Homo sapiens: one gene and its partners. The protein of the gene in region 2 interacts with the protein of the main gene of each other region in a pairwise test. Each region holds a gene or a part of one and is shown on either strand. Other genes may lie near its edges.

Evidence for each region. Proteins that work in one complex are often made in the same cells at the same time.
Region 1: the proteins of SFMBT1 (region 2) and ZCCHC10 interact in binary tests that used the Homo sapiens proteins (3 or more experiments, as listed by UniProt).
Region 3: the proteins of SFMBT1 (region 2) and HOXB9 interact in binary tests that used the Homo sapiens proteins (3 or more experiments, as listed by UniProt).

What each region holds. Positions count from the first base shown.
Region 1 is NC_000005.10:133,002,550-133,009,549, forward strand, and holds part of ZCCHC10 (zinc finger CCHC domain-containing protein 10), read right to left. Parts: intron 4,372-7,000; coding exon 4,210-4,371; intron 817-4,209; exon of another isoform or gene 548-816; intron 1-547.
Region 2 is NC_000003.12:52,924,021-52,931,230, reverse strand, and holds part of SFMBT1 (scm-like with four MBT domains protein 1), read left to right. Parts: intron 1-195; coding exon 196-290; intron 291-800; coding exon 801-902; intron 903-2,889; coding exon 2,890-3,040; intron 3,041-5,117; coding exon 5,118-5,200; intron 5,201-7,210. UniProt on the Homo sapiens protein: Histone-binding protein, which is part of various corepressor complexes. Mediates the recruitment of corepressor complexes to target genes, followed by chromatin compaction and repression of transcription.
Region 3 is NC_000017.11:48,620,656-48,623,358, reverse strand, and holds the end of HOXB9 (homeobox protein Hox-B9), read left to right. Parts: intron 1-223; coding exon 224-459; 3' UTR 460-2,203; downstream 2,204-2,703. UniProt on the Homo sapiens protein: Sequence-specific transcription factor which is part of a developmental regulatory system that provides cells with specific positional identities on the anterior-posterior axis.

The DNA of each region.
Region 1 (7,000 bases), on a different chromosome or scaffold from region 2:
CAAACATTTTTTTGCTTACATTCCTAATAAAATAATTTCTGGAAAACTCATACTTGCAATTCTAAGTTTTAATATTTGCAAAGGGCATATTATATACATATTATAAAAAGTTCTACAATAATTTAATACCTATTATTCACATAAGAACATATGAACATTTTTAACAGCTGATACTTTTTCTTTTTTTTGAGGTGGAGGCTCGTTCTGTCGCCCAGGTGGGAGTGCTGTTGCATGATCTTGGCTTACTTCAACCTCTGCCTCCTGGGTTCAAGCAATTTTCCTGTCTCAGCCTCCTGAGTAGCTGGGATTACAGGTGCCCGCCACCATGCCTGGCTAATTTTTGTACTTTTAGTAGAGATGGCGTTTCACCATGTTGGTCAGGCTGGTCTCGAACTCTTGACCTCAGGCGATCCACCCACTTCGGCCTCCCAAAGTGTTGGGATTACAGGTGTGAGCCACCACGCCCGGCCTTTTTTTAAGAAACAGGGTCTTGGCAGATACTACTTAGCCCAGGGCCTGGTGGCTAGGCTGGTTGTCTCCTTTCCAGTTGGAGGCTTCTGCTGCAAACATTCTCCGCCAGATCATGGGTCAGGCCAAGAAGCATGCGAAGTTGATCCCCCTTTTTGTATTTATTGGAACTGGAGGTATTGGAGCAGCACTGTTTCTCTCGCCTCTGACATTGTTCAATCCAGATGTTTGTTGGGACAGAAAGACTAACCCAGAGCCCTGAACAAACTGGGTCCCAATGATCAATACAAGTTCTACTCAGTGAATGTGGATTACAGCAAATTGAAGAAAGAAGGTTCAGATTTCTAAATGAAATGTTTTACTATAAAGCTCCTTTAGAATGAAGGTCTTCCAGAAGCCATCCGCACAATTTTCCACTTAACAGGAAATATTTCTCCTCTAAATGCATGAAATCATGTTGAGGTAATCTACTGGAGATTACACTGATTAATAAATAACTGAAAGTTGAAAAAAAACCCAAAAAACCCAGCATCTTGCTATGTTGCCTAGGCTGTTCTTAGACTTCTGGCCCCAAGTGATCCTCTTGTCTTGGCCTCCCAAAGTGCTGGGATTACAGGCATGAGCCACAGCATTTGGCTGATAGTATAAATTTTAATAACTATTACATTAAAACAAACTTATTGGTAATGTGTATATATATATATTTTTGGCGAGATACAGTCTCACTGTATCACCCAGGCTGGAGTGCAGTGGTGTGATTTCAGCTCCCTGCAACTTCTGCCTCCTGGGTTCAAGTGATCCTCCTGCCTCAGCTTCCCAAGTAGCTGCGATTACAGGGTGCACCACCGCACCTAGCTAATTTTTGTATTTTTAGTAGAGACAGGGTTTTGCCATGTTGGCCAGGATGGTCTCGAACTCCTGACCTCGAGTGATCCACCCACCTCGGCCTCCCATAGTGCTGGAATTACAGGCATGAACCACTGTGCCCAGTCCGGAAATGCATTTCTTAATGACAGATTTTTTTCTAGTTTATGTATCTATAAATAAATATTTCTTCATGGTAGAATGTGACCAGGTTTGGCATCAATTAAATTCCTATTTTTAAATTTTATTTTTTCAATAGAGATGGCTCCTTGGGAATTATTTCTTATTTTTAATTTCTTTTTTTTTTTTTGAGATGGAGTTTCGCTCTCGTTGCCTAGGCTGAAGTGCAATGGTGCAGTCTCGGCTCACCACAACCTCCGCCTCCCGGGTTCAAGTGATTCTCCTGCCTCAGCCTCCCAAGCAGCTGGGATTATGGGCATGCGCCACCACGTCTGGATAATTTTGTATTTTTAGTAGAGACGGGGTTTCTCCATGTTGGTCATGTTAGTCTCAAACTCCCAACCTCAGGTGATCCACCCGCCTTGGCCTCCCAAAGTGCTGGGATTACAGGCATGAGCCACCGCGCCCGGCTTAGTTCTTATTTTATTTTTATTTTTATTTTCTGAGACGGAGTCTCGCTCTGTCACCCGGGCTAGAGTGCAGTGGCGCGATCTCGGCTCCCTTGCAAGCTCCGCCTTCCGGGTTCACGCCATTCTCCTGGCTCAGCCTCCCGAATAGCTGGGACTACAGGTGCCCACCACCACGCCCGGCTGATTTTTTGTATCTTTTTAGTAGAGACAGGGTTTCACTGTGTTAGCCAGGAAGATCTCCATCTCCTGACCTCGTGATCTGCCTGCCTCGGCCTCCCAAAGTGCTGGGATTACAGGTGTAAGCCACCGTGCCCGGCTTAATTCTTAAGTGTTACATATTTAACCTAGAGAAACCCTAACCTAAATAGATTGATTGGAATGGAAAGACTTTTGTTATTTCCATGTCACTCGATTCTCTGCATTCCATCTGTTATATGCCACAAGTCACATAATAATATTCCATTAAAATATGCTTTTTAATTGACAATTCAATTAGGTCATCTTCAATTTTGTTGAGGGAAAAACCTTAAAAAAGAATTTACTCTCAGCTGGGTGCGGTGGCTCACGCCTGTAATCCCAGCACTTTGGGAGGCCGAGGCGGGCAGATCATGAGGTCAGGAGATCGAGACCATCCTGGCTAACATGGTGAAACCCAGTCTCTACTAAAAATACAAAAAATTAGCCAGGTGTTGTTGCACGCACCTATACTCCCAGCTACTCCGGAGGCTGAGGCACAATCACATGAACCTGGGAAGCAGAGGTCGAAGTGAGCTGAGATCGCACCACTGCACTCCAGCCTGGGTGACAGAGCAAGACTCTGTCTCAAAAAAAAAATTTTTTACTCTAAAAAATTATGGCCAGCTGGGCATGGTGGCTCATGCCTATAATCCCAGCACTTTGGGAGGCTGAGGTGGGTGGATTGCTAGAGCTCAGGAGTTTGAGACCACCCTGGGCAACATGGCAAAATCCCATCTCTACCAAAAATACAAAAAATTAGCCAGGCGTGGTGGTGTGCATCTGAAGTCTCAGCTACTGGGGAGGCTGAGGTGGGAGAATTACTTGAACCCAGGAGGTGGAGGTTGCAGTGAGCTGAGACTGCACTCCAGATTGGATGACACAGTGAGACTCTGTCTCAAAACAAACAAACAAAACTATTATGACCATTCACTTTCTCAGCACAAACACCACTATTCTGCCATCTAGGTTTTTATACGTGAGGACAATACACTAAGGTATGTTAGAGATGGGTGAGAGGTATACCTTTCTTTTGTGAGATTAGAGAAGCGTTGTTAGAAAAGGGGAAGTAGAAAAGGAGACCAGTAGGCAAGTTCTCATCAGATTTGTTTTAGGAAGAATTGTATATGAATGTTGATAATCTAGAAATTGGTTATCTATTCCTGCATAACGCTTGAAGAACTTTCACGTCACAAATTGGAAGACTGTTGCCTTGAAAGTCTAAATATTTAAGACACTATTATACAGCTAACAGCCCTTAGGAAGATGCTGCTTTTTTTTTTTTTTTTTTTTTTTTGAGACAGAGTCTCCCTCTGTTGCCCAGTCGGGAATGCAGTGGCACAATCTCAGCTCACCAAAACTTCCACCTCCCAGGTTCAAGTGATTCTCTTGCCTCAGCCTCCTGAGTAGCTGGGATTACAGGTACCTGCCACTATGCCCGGCTAATTTTTGTATTTTTAGTAGGGATGGAATTTCACCATGTTGGCCAGGCGTCGGCCTCCCAAAGTGTTGGGATTATAGGTGTGAGCCACCCCGCCCAGCCAATTCTTCTTTTTATAAACATAAATCATAGCATATTATATATTCTGTTCTCTACCTTAATTAATATACCTGGTACTTCTTGGATAGCTTTCCATGTCAGCTCATATAATCTATCGGTTAATTCAATTGTCATTTCATTGACAGTTGAGGCAAAAAAGCAAAATGATTAAGACCATGAATCTGGGGGACAGGCTGCATGATTTAACACTTACTTTTTCTTCTTACTAGCTGTATGACAATGAGTAAGTTATTCAACATCTCCTTGCTTTAGTTTCTTCATATGTAAAATGAAGACAATAATACTACCTACCTTAATAGTGTAGATATCAGGTTTAAATAAGCTAATACTTATAAAGACCCTAGAATAGTACTTGGCACACAGTAAGCATCTATTAAACATTAGTAACATTATAATTAAAATCTGGAGAACCACCATGAAACGTTTGGTCCTTTAATAAATTCTATATACACATTAAAAAAATATTCCTTTGGATACCACATGTAAACCTACCTTTGTTGCAATAATAATCTGTTTTCTTTTTCTTTTAAAGCTTTCTTTAGTTCTGCTGTCCTTGAGGGCCTATGTAGGTATTTTCTTTTTCCTGTGCATTCATAAGTCCAATGTCCAAATTCCAAGCATTTCTGACATCTTACATGTTGCTTATTTGCTTCACTACAGAACAAAAAACAGAATACAAGCCTTAAAATTCTGTCTTGTGACTTTCACCCTAAAAACTATAAAAAAATATAAAGGATAAAATTATGTTTACTCTTATGGTCCAATTCATAAAAATCAACATTTTACCCTTGTGAGATTTAATACAACAAAGTATAATAAGTGTAATGACATGGTTTGGCTGTGTCCCCATCTAAATCTCATCTTGAATTCCCACATGTTGTGGGAGAAACCTGGTGGGAGGTAACTTAATCATAGGGGCAAGTCTTTCCTGTGCTGTTCTTGTGATAGTGAATAAATCTCACAAGATCTGATGGTTTTAAAAATAGGAGTTTCCGGCTGGGTGTGGTGGCTCACACCTATAATCCCAGCACTTTGGGAGGCTAAGGCAGGCGGATTACGAGGTCAGGAGATTGAGACCATCCTGGCTAACATGGTGAAACCCCATCTCCACTAAAAATACAAAAAAATTAGCCAAGCGTGGTGGTGGGCGCCTGTAGTCCCAGCTACTCAGGAGGCTGAGGCAGGAGAATGGTATGAACCCGGGAGGCAGAGCTTGCAGTGAGCCAAGGTTGCACCACTGCACTCCAGCCTGGGCAACAGAGCGAGACTCCGTCTCACAAAAAAAAAAAAAAACAAAAAACCACAGGAGTTTCCCTGCACAGTCTCTCTCTCTTTTCTTGCTGCCGTCCATGTAAGATGTGACTTGTTCCTCCTTGCCTTCTGCCATGATTGTGAGGCCTCCCCAGACATGCTGAACTGTGATTCCAATAAACTTTTTTGTTGTGTAAATTGCCCAGTCTTGGGTATGTCTTTATCAGCAGTGTGAAAATGGATTAATACATATAATAAATGGTTAAAAGCATAGACCTTGAAGTTAAGATACAGTTGAATTCAAATCTTGGCTCCTCAATTCTGTTCCAGTTATGTGAGACTAGGGCATTCAGACTACTTTCCAGCTCAGAACTAGAAAAGACCGTCAAAACATTTTTAACAAGCTTCTTTAAGAATCGGAAAATCAGCCAGGTGTGGTGGCTCACACCTGTAATCCCAGCACTTTGGGAGGCTAAGGCAGGCGGATCACGAGGTCAGGAGATCGAGACCATCCTGGCTAACACGGTGAAACCCTGTCTCTACTAAAAATATAAAAAATTAGCCGGGCGTGGTGGTGGGTGCCTGTAGTCCCAGCTACTGGGGAGACTGAGGCAGGAGAATGGTGTGAACCTGGGAGGCAAAGCTTGCAGTGAGCCGAGATTGCGCCACTGCACTCCAGTCTGGGTGACAGAGTGAGACTCTGTCTCAAAAAAAAAAAAAAAAAAAGAATCAGAAAATCAGGCCGGGAGCAGTGGCTCACGCCTGTAATCCCAGCACTTTGGGAGGCTGAGGCAGGTGGATCAGGAGGTCAGGAGTTTGAGACCAGCCTGGCCAACATGGTGAAACCCTGTCTCTACTAAAAATACAAAAATTAGCTGGGCGTGGTGGTGGGCACCTGTAATCCCAGCTACATGGGAGGCTGAGGCAGGAGAATCATTTGAACCTGGGAGGCGGAGGTTGCAGTGAGCCGAGATTGCGCCATCGTACTCCAGCCTGGGCAACAGGGTGAGACTCCATCTCAAAAAAAAAAAAAAAAAATCAGAGAATCAACAAGGGGGTCAAGCTGACCAGCTGAAATGGCTCAGGTCTGTAATCCCAGCATTTTGGGAGGCCACGGTGGAAAGATTGCTTGAGGCCAGGAATTTGAGACCAGCCAGGCAGGACAACACAGCAAGACTCAATCTCTACAACAAATTTTGAAAAATTAGCCAGGGCCAGGCCTGGTGGTTCACGCTTGTAATCCCAGCACTTTGGGAGGCCAAGGGAGGCAGATAACTTGAGCTCAGAAGTTTGAGACTAGCCTGGGCAACATGGTGAAACCCTGTCTCTAAAAAAAACTACAAAAATTAGCCGCGTGTGGTGGCAAACAGCTGTAGTCCCAGCTACTTGGGAAGCTGAGATAGGAGGTGCAATTGAGCCCAGGAGTTTGAGGCTACAGTAAGCTATGATTGCACCACTGCACTTCAACTTGGGTGACAGAGGGAGATTCTCTTTTTTTTTTTTTTTAAAGATGAAGTCTCACTCTGTTGCCCAGGCCAAGAGTGCAGTGGCACGATCTCGGCTCACCACAAGCCTCCCAGGTTCAAGCAATTCTCCTGCCTCAGCCTCCTGAGTAGTTGAGACTACAGGCATGCACTATCACGCCCGGCTAATTTTTGTATTTTTTGTAGAGGTGGGGTTTTGCCATGTTGGCCAGGCTGGTCTCAAACTCCTGGCCTCAAGTGATCCACCTACTTCGGCCTCCCAAAGTGCTGGGATTACGGGCATGAGCCACTGCACCCTGCCTGATTCTGTCTCTTAAAAAAAACCAAAAAAGATGGCCAGGTGCGGTGGCTCATTCCCATAATCCCAGCACTTTGTGGGGCTGAGGTGGGCGGATTGCTTGAGGTCAGAAATTCGAGACCAGCGTGGCCAACATGGTGAAACCCGTCTCTACTAAAACAAAAATTGCCAGGCTTGGTGGCACACACCTGTAATCTCAGCTACTCAGGAAGCTGAGGCAGGAGAATTGTTTGAACTTAAGGAGGCAGAG
Region 2 (7,210 bases):
TGTCCAGGCTCTGCATAGAGCAAAGTACTGAAGTTAAGGTGCAAGTTCTTTGAATGTAAAGGGATATAAGTGGGCTTGAACCCTTTTCTAGTTCCAGTGGAAAGTGACTTGTTTTTGTTTATGTGAATGCTTTCAGGACAGGTAAAAAGTATAAGTTTCTCATCATCTAAAGCATGTTGTCATGTTTTATTAAAGCCATTAGACATCTAAAAAATGAAGCTGAGTGGCAAGAGATTTTGGCCAAAGTGAAAGAGGAAGAGGAAGAGCCATTACCATCTTACTTATTTAAGGTAAAAACAAAACATGTGATAGACCGGTATTGCTCCCCTTACAGTAGAGTAAAGCAACGCAGGAGGTGAAAGTGTAAAGCAGCCCCTGCAGTCGGTAAGAATGCCATGGTCTCTGAAGGAGGAGGGTGTGTTAAGGCTGGACTGATGATCATCCTTGTTTTCTTCTAACAGTTGTCTAGATTTTCTCCCCAAGTTCTCCTAAAGTAGTTTGAACCTTTTCTTTTTTACCCTTAACTACATAGTCTTAACTGATAAAATAAATTTGTTTTTTTCTCCAGATATTCCTTGTCTTTGAATGTAGAGAGTAGAAGCACTTCTGTGTGTTTTGTTTTTTCCTGGATAGTTTTTTCCAGAGTAGAAAATTATATTGGATAGTTTTGCACATTTAAAAAAAAGAAGAAAACTATAGGATTTACCAGAGCTGGACATTTCTGTTAATCACAGCTACATGTGAGTGTAAGATTGATACAGATACTATGTTTTCATCCCCTTTTGGTGTCTGCATTTCAGGACAAACAAGTTATTGGCATTCATACATTCTCTGTAAACATGAAATTGGAAGCTGTAGACCCCTGGTCTCCTTTTGGGATCTCTCCTGCTACAGTTGTTAAGGTAAAATGGAGATAACTCTCTTGGTAAGAATCCCTGTCAAGGTGACTGGTTTAGGAAATGGGTAGTGTTTTGATCTTTAAGCTCTATTGATCCAACCCATTTTTCCTTCTAGGCCGTGCAGCTAGAATTACTTCTGTGCACGTTTTGTATTTGTCCAGTTTGCTGTGGCCCATTCCTCCTTCAGAGCTTGGTAGCCCTAGCCAAAGCAGCCTTGGGCCTGGGCACTGGACTAGTAGGGGACGCATTCTTTGGGGCAGGCCTAGCTGCATATAAGTAAAGGAGATTTAACTCCTTTAGGAGGCCAGGGTATCTGTAAAGTTGGAGGCAGGCAGTCTCATCAACGTCTAACCAGATGCAGAGCTCATTGGAATGAGGAGATGAATGGGGATCAGGCAGTTAGTGTTAAAAGTTCTGGCAGTGGACTGGCTCCAGCTATGTATTCCAGATTCAGATTTAATCTTTTGGAATACTGACAAAACTAAGAAGTAAGGTTATCAAGGCCCTGCTCAGTCACTACAACTGAGGCATTGGCGAGAGAATTTCAGTTTCCAACTAGAGCAGAAGGACATTTACTGAAAATAGAAGCCAAAGTTGAATGTGACTAGAGGAATAGTTGCCTGGGTGCTAAATCCTCTGACCTATTGAGATTTAAGTTTTCCCTGTCTTGGAAGAAGATTATTCTCAAAGCAAGGAGGGATTCTGAGCCTGCAGGTGGGGCCAGAAGGCCCTACCTAGAGTCTGAAGGGAGGGCTAGTGGGAAGCCAGAGGAAGTTCATAAAGTTATCTCTTTGGCCGGGTGTGGTGGCTCACGCCTGTCATCCCAGCACTTTGGGACGCCGGGGCAGGCAGATCACCTGAGGTCAGGAGTTCAAGACCAGCCTGACCAACATGGAGAAACCCCATCTCTACTAAAAATACAAAATTAGCTGGACATGGTGGTGCATGCCTGTAATCCCAGCTGCTCGGGAGGCTGAGGTGAGAGAATCGCTTGAACCCGGGAGGCGGAGGTTACGGTGAGCCAAGATTGTGCCATTGCACTCCAGCCTGGGCAACAAGAGCGAAACTCCGTCTCTAAATAAATAAATAAATAAAGTTCGTTCTTTGGCATTTGAAACTGGGCTAGGATTTGAAAAACTAATACATAGTAGCATAAGCTTAAACTAAGTTTGTCACTAAGCTTAGAATAAATTTTGTTTGGAGCCAAACTACATGGCTTTGGATCCAGGTTTTGCTTCTTCTTTGTTTTGTAACCCAGGGCAAGTTATTTAACCTCTGTTTGAACTCATTCTCCTTATCTGTGAAATGGAGTTGATAAAGGTACTTGGGCCAGGTGTGGTGGCTCATGCATGTAATCCCAGCACTTTGGGAGGCTGAGGCAGGAGGATTGCTTGAGCCCAGGAGTTTGAGACAAGCCTGGGCAATATATGGAGACCGAGTCTCTACAAAAATTAAAAAAAATTAGCTGGGCATGGTGGTGCATGCCTGTTGTCCCAGCTACTCAAGGGACTGAAGTGGGAGGATCAACTGAGCCCAGGAAGTCAAGACTGCAGTGCTTCGGTGAGCCAAATTCATGCCACTGCACTCCAGCCTGGGTAAGAGAGCAAGACCCTGTCTCCAAAAAAAAACAAACAAACTATATATATATGTGTGTGTGTGTATATATGTATATATGTGTATATATATATATATATGTATATATATGTATATATGTATATATATGTATATATGTATATATATGTATATATGTATATATATGTATATGTACTTACCTCATTCAGTTGTTAAGATTAAAACTGAATTGATACATGAAAAGCATTTAATTAAAACAGTAATTATATGTATTACATAACACAGAGCTAACATTTAGTGTTTAGTATTATTAATACCCACATGAGTATGAACTTTTGTAATATGTTTGGCTGTGCCAAGGAGAAAGCACATATATATGTGTGCATTTGTCTATTTCATCTATTAATTGCATGTATAGGTTTTTGATGAGAAGTACTTTCTGGTGGAAATGGATGACTTGCGTCCTGAGAACCACGCACGGCGATCCTTTGTGTGCCACGCCGACAGTCCTGGCATCTTCCCTGTGCAGTGGAGTCTGAAGAATGGCCTACACATCAGCCCCCCTCCAGGTGCACATTCGCTGTCTTCTGAATTGTCACTTGAGAGCTTCTCCTTGAAATGAGACATGTCAGATGGCATTGCTGAAATCTTTTGTCCCTCTCCTCCTGCCCTAGCCTGTTCCTAACGTTTTTGGGGTCTGAGAAAAGTATAAGGAAAGGTCTAGATTCCATGTATTTACATATTTGAAAGTTACAAACTGAGCTAAAAAACTGTTAAAGAGAGTGCGTTCTATCCTCTGACTTTGATATCTATGTCCTCATAACCCCCTGGAAAACCAGGTTCCAACCTGGGTTCGTGCTGGCTCCTTAGTCCCTTTTATGTCTGTTAGGGGTGGCAGAGGGGTGAGCTTGGATGCACAGCAAGCACTGGGGGCTGGCTTGTGAGAAGAGGCCGTAGAGCCAGAGTTAGAAGGTAGATTACTGATTATCTTTAGGTGTCTGAGCCTTGTCATGGAGGGGACTTTCTACAGAGAAGTTTATGGTGAAGAGTAGAACTCAGGGAGTAGGTAGGAAAATAAAAGCTCATTTTCCTGATATTTGCAACTTTGCAAAATATAGTCTTTGATCCTTTAATCAAGGCCCTTAATTAATGGGTTAGTTGAGCTTGACTGAAATTTTTAATATTTTTAAACTTAGAGAATCTAGAATATGTCAGATGTTTATCTGATTTTTTAATATTAGCAAATCAGATTATTTGATTGGCAGTCTATATATGTTATTAGTAGGTTTTCAGTAAAGCATAGCATCACTTTTCTAAATGGTGACTGCTGGAACACTGGGCTGGAAGTACTCTTTCTTGTTAACAAGGGTCATAAACTCAGAACCTTTGTCTTCCATTCAGCTTTTATTCATTCAACAAACATTCATGTGAAGTTTGCTGTAAGCCAGGCATTGAGCTTATCCCTGGGGAGAGTGACAAGCTCAATGAGTACAACTCGGTCCCTTCAAGGGGCAAATAGGGGGAAATATTAACAGAACTTCCTAGAGTCTCCTCCATCAGTGAACACAGCAGATGAATGCCTGGTTGGAGGGTGTGGTGTAGAACAGCCATAGAAGGAAGTTCTTGCTTTGCAGGCACGCTCTAGATATCCCAAGTTCTTTATTCTGCTTGCCACCTCTATGTGAAAAAGAAGGAACAGTTGTTAAAAATACTGAAGCTTTCAGTGTTGTTATAGACAAATCAACTGTGTCTTTGTAAATAGAGGGAAGGTAGTAGATTACATAACTGAAAATGGCAGAAAATGTACTGTCAGGCATTGAGGTTGGGGCAAAGGGAGAACATGGTGCCAGTCTTCGGTAGGCAGGGACTGTTGGGCTGTCAGAGGGCATAGACTTGAGTAGCCTATTTTTTTGCCTGTGAGACATTAAGCTCTCTGGAGGCTGAGAGCAACTCAGACACAGTAGGCAGTTGGGCCTCGCTCAGCTCTTTGCATGTAGATGGTGCTGAGTCAGCAGCAGCTTGGAGATGCTTCCATCAAGAACCTCAGTAGACTTAAGTGGGGTGCTAAGCTTGATTTTTCTGAAATAAATACATGATTTAGATTATAAAAGCATTGATATTCTGTAATATATGAATCTGAAAATGACAAGAGGATTTGTATCAGTGATATCTGAGACACATTTCAGGAAACAGCTTTAACAAAGAAAAAAAGTCTTCGTCTTTGCAGATTAACTAATACTATTTGCTGTCTCTTTTCCTTGAGAGCCCGAGTCCCTTTAGAATTGACAATAAGAGTGGATTTATATATACAAATCAAATCCAGTCATAACTGTCTTAAATTCTTTTGGTAAATTGCCAGCAACTAATCATATAAAATAGTGCTCAAAATAAATGCCTAGTTTGAAATTTGAAAGTTTACAAATTTATCCAGAGTCTGATTGTCTTATTACAGTTTGACCAGAGTTGCTCTATTTTATAAAATTAACAGTGCTCTAGATTTATAGAATGCTTTTCGCCCCTCTAAAATGATCAAAGTTGTCAGACTAGCATCACTGGAAGTTGTGAGTGGACCCTTGGTGAGGGGTGAAGCCAGGCAGGCGTATGTGGTGTGGTAGTGTGACTCATTGTTCATTTGTCCCCACCTAGGCTACCCAAGCCAGGACTTTGACTGGGCTGACTACCTCAAACAGTGTGGTGCTGAAGCTGCTCCCCAGAGGTGCTTCCCTCCGGTGAGGACCCCCACGGCCTCATGGCCACTATGGCAGGGCTGCAGGGACTGCTGTGCTTCCCTTGCTTTCCATGTTATTGCTCTGAAGATAATCATCTCACTTAATCCAGATGAGCACAGTGGTGATTGTAATCACATGGTCTAAAGGAAAATACATTTACTGCAGAAGTGAATCAGTTAGTTTGCTAATTAAGTTAGTTTTATAAGTTTATTGGTTTTATTTTTTCTTAGCTGAAATCGTGAATTTGAAATTTTATGATTATTTTTCATGGTTCAATAATAGGAAAAACTGTTGAAATATTAAGTGGAGAAAAATTGTTAAGCTTATTTAAATTCTTCTATCCAAATAATACATGCATGTGGTTTAAAGAGCCATGTAGCAGTAAAAGGCTTAGAAGGTAAAATAGCAGTCCCTGCCCTACCCCGTTTCACAGTCTCCCTTCCCAGAAATAACTACTTCCTGTTCTTCTCACTGTAATTCTAGTTATTTGTATTTCTTCATTTTCAAAATAAAAACCTTCTATCTTTTGAGTCATTTATTTTAGACATGTCACTTGGTTCTAATTTAAAAACTTTGACTTTATTAAAACAAATTAAATTCACCCTGTCTTATGGTGCTGAGTCTGTTGGTTCTAAATTATGATAAATGAGCATTTAATTATTTTTTATTACCTTTCCTCTCTGTCTTACCACATTCTTCTTCCTTTAGAGTTATATTACAATTTTTGGTTAAATACAAAATGAGTTTTTACATTATGATATGCATTCAGATATTACAGCTGAGCACTGCAGTTTTGTTTTGTTTTGTTTTGAGACAGAGTCTTGCTCTGTCACCCAGGCTGGAGTGCAGTGGCACGATCTCAGCTCACTATAGCCTCCGCCTCCCGGGTTCAAGAGATTCTCCTGCCTCGGCCTCCCAAGTAGCTGGGATTACAGGCGCCCACCAGCACACTCGCCTAATTTTCATTTTTATAGTAGAGATGAGGTTTCACCATGTTGGCCAGGCTGGTCTCGAACTCCTGACCTCAAGTGATCTGCCCACCTCAGCCTCCCAAAGTGCTGGGATTACAGGTATGAGCCACTGCACCTGGCACTGCAGTATTTTATGATTGTTTCTTTTTAAAAATTTTTATCCTCAATAATAATTGCCTTGTTTTTAATTTACTTAATTTTATCTATTGCTGCTGCTGTCCACACTTCCCAGTAGTCTCTCATTATCAAAAGCAGTCACATCAAGAAATCTGTCATTCCTAACACTTTTGTTAAAGAGACATCCCTCTTAGCAACCTCCACTCTCTGTCTGGATGGGTTGCTCTTTAAAGGTTTGCCATGTAGTTTTTGTGGGTTTTGTTGTTGTTGTTGTTGTTGTTGTTTGTTTTTTGTTCTTCTTAGACAGAATCTTGCTCTTGTCGCCCAGGCTGGAGTGTAGTGGTACGATCTCAGCTCACTGCAACCTCCGCCTCCCGGGTTCAATAGATTGTCCTGCCTCACCCTCCTGAGTAGCTGGAATTATAGGCGCCCGCCACCATGCCTGGCTAATTTTTGTATTTTTAGCAGAGACTGGGTTTCACCATGTTGGCCAGGCTGGTCTCAAACTCCTGACCTCAGATGATCTTCCCGCCTCAGCCTCCCGTAGTGCTGGGATTACAAGTGTGAGCCACTGTGCCGGCCTTGCCATGTAGTTTTAATCATGGAAATGCCCTTGTCACCCAGGGAATTGCCCACTCCCCTTTTGTATGATTTGGGGTCCCTTGTTTTGTAGAGATCTCATGGCCTCCTCTTTCTTGGTTTGCTTCCTTGTTTTGATGGATCCCCATCTCTCAGTACCTTCCTGTAACAGGGTACAAGGGAAGTAAATTTTTTTTGACACTGTATATTTGAAAATGTCTTCACTCTACTGACTTGCTTCATAGTTTGGCTCAATGTGGAAGTTATTTTGCTTGAGAATTCGGAAAACATTGCTCAGTTGTTTTCTAACTTCTAGTGTTACTATCAAGAAGTTAAAAGCTAT
Region 3 (2,703 bases), on a different chromosome or scaffold from region 2:
AAGCCTGGGCCCACGTTTGGCTCCATCCTTTCCACACAGCCTCTCACCTGGAGGTGTCTATAGCAATGGCTGGCCCATCTGTGACACCCTTCCTGGGAGCTTGAAGACCCAGGTGGCCTCTTCTCCAGTGCAAGATGGGGAGTGGAGACCAAGGGAGTGCCCTCTTGATCTGGGGCCCTTCACCCCCTTCCTTTCTTTGATTCTATCGCTGCTTCTCTTTCAGCCAACCCCTCCGCCAACTGGCTGCACGCTCGCTCTTCCCGGAAAAAGCGCTGTCCCTACACCAAATACCAGACGCTGGAGCTAGAGAAGGAGTTTCTGTTCAATATGTACCTCACCAGGGACCGTAGGCACGAAGTGGCCAGACTCCTCAATCTGAGTGAGAGACAAGTCAAAATCTGGTTTCAGAACCGGCGGATGAAAATGAAGAAAATGAATAAGGAGCAGGGCAAAGAGTAAAGATTAAAGATTACCCCCAGTCCTCCCTAGCTCTTCCCCATCTCACTCTTAGTTATGTGACGACTGCAAAGCCAGTGCTGTCTGGGATGTATTCAAGTGAATGGGGAAGGGAGTCTCTCTTCCAAGTCCTTTATCTGCACCTAGAACCTCCCTCCTTTCCTTTGCCCTTACCTGTCTCTCTCTTCTCTCTAGGTGTCAGGAGAAAGTTTTGTTGATTTAGAAGATAGAAATAGTTGGTTCCTAAGAATGTGATGGGCCACAAGGAAAGAGAGACCCCAGTCAAGCTCCTAGTATGCCCTGTAATTTTTCTGGGAAGTCCTAGCCCCTCACTTCCAGCTTGCCTGTTTCTTCTCTACACCCACCCAAAAGTCACCCAGGGACACTCCAACTCTACACAGCTCAGCAGACATCCACACACAGTAATGGGGTGAGCTCACAACCACCATTCAGTCAAGTGAGGTGACACTCCAGTTGCAGACCATCGCACACCAAATTTGGCAAAACAGCCCTCAGACTGTCAGGCAAGCCCGGGTTCTACCCCTAATGCAAATACCCACCAGGGAGATGTCTAGAGGCAGACTCCTGAGTGAGGTGTTGCAGCCCAAAGGCTGCAGCATTGCCATACCATTCCCATGGAGTTGCCAACTATTCTCAGGCCAAGGGCCATGGGGAAGATGGAGCAAACCTAGCCCCCAAGCCGGTGGGCTAGAAAGTACAAGAAAAGGCAGCACGTGGTTTTATGAAGCTATCTTAGGTGGAGCTACTCCCCACCTCCCACCAACATATACATTTTGTTGCAGGAAATGTTTAATTCCGCATGATGTTTCCCTCTCCTTCCAACAAAAGAAGGTCAAACTGTGGGTCGTAGAGCCTTGACAATGTTGTCCTCCTGTTCATCTGTGCACCACTTGACAGACTGTAGCTTCTCTTGCTCTCGACCGGCCCTGCATTCTTCCGCACCCTCCCTAGCTCTGAAATCAACTCTCTTCGGTCGTATCCACCTTGCACCCGCAAGTCAAGCCGCCCCTTGTAGAAAAATCCCTCCACCTTCCGTTCCCCGCTAGGTCAACCCCACTGTAGACAGGAAAGCCAGGCCAGGAGAGTCCGAATGAGAATTTATTGTGAATCGATTCCCAAGCTCCCTTCCGGGACAAGTGGTCTGGGACAGGGAGGAGCAACGGCCCCAGCGCGCAACGCTCTGCGCGTTCCTCCGAATCCCGTCGGCTTCTCGACCCACGCAGAGAAGCCCCGGGCTTGGCGGCTCTAGCCCCAGCGCCAAAGGAGACCCGCCCCAGGGCCGGGCTTGGCCTCCTGCTTCATGGGCCTGGATGCAGATCTGCGTGGCTGGTGCGTGCGCGCGCTTCTGGGAAACAGTCCCGCGTGCAAAGGAAAGGGGCAAAATGGCACCTAAGCATCAGATGGAAGCTTACTCTCTGCTTCCGTTCCTCCCCCTGCTCCCCTACTTCTCAGTCCCCTTCAATTTGTAGACTCTTGCTCCTGCTTCTCCTGATCCTGCAAGGGGACATTCCAGTAGAAGTTTTTTGCTTTGTCGGTGGCTGTCGTGAAATTGTGCTTGTGTTTCGTGATTTCTTTGGGGGTGATTGTCTCGCTTGTTTTCAGTTGTCGATTATATGGGAGGGTTCTGGGTGGGAGTGGGGAGGGCGAGGGGCCTAGAGCTCTAATTGTTTGTTTTGGAAGAAAAAAAGAAAAAGAACAAAAAATATATATCACTCTAGAAAATAAATCTCTCCTGTGTCTTATTCTGTGTTGGCTCTCTGGGCCTGACCATAGGTAGAGATCCCAGTTGTCGGGAGAAAGGCTTGGAAAAAAAAAGATTGCTGAGTCCAGGAGGTTTCTCCTTACACCCTGCAGGGCAAGGTCCCCTGCAGAGCTCTCTAGAGGTGGAGCTGAGAGCCAGTCCCAGACCCCAGGTCCCAAGACTACTGGTTAAACTGATCAAGAGCCTTCCAACAGGAGAACTGGAAAACGAGCGGGGAGGGAAGGAAATGTGGGTTGTTTGGAGAGGGCACAGGGTCTGGGGAGCAATGAGGTCCTGAAACCTCCTCATTGACTAGAGAATAGGAGGGAAGGTAGGTCTTCCTGCACCTCCTGGGGGTAGCTCTCCTCCCTCAGCCACTGAGAATGTCACCTTAGTTTGGCCGCTTTAAAATATGATGCAAGGGAGGAACACAGTAATTTCCCTCTGTTCTTCCCTGCAGTAGGGTGCCTAGGTCTAGACAGAGG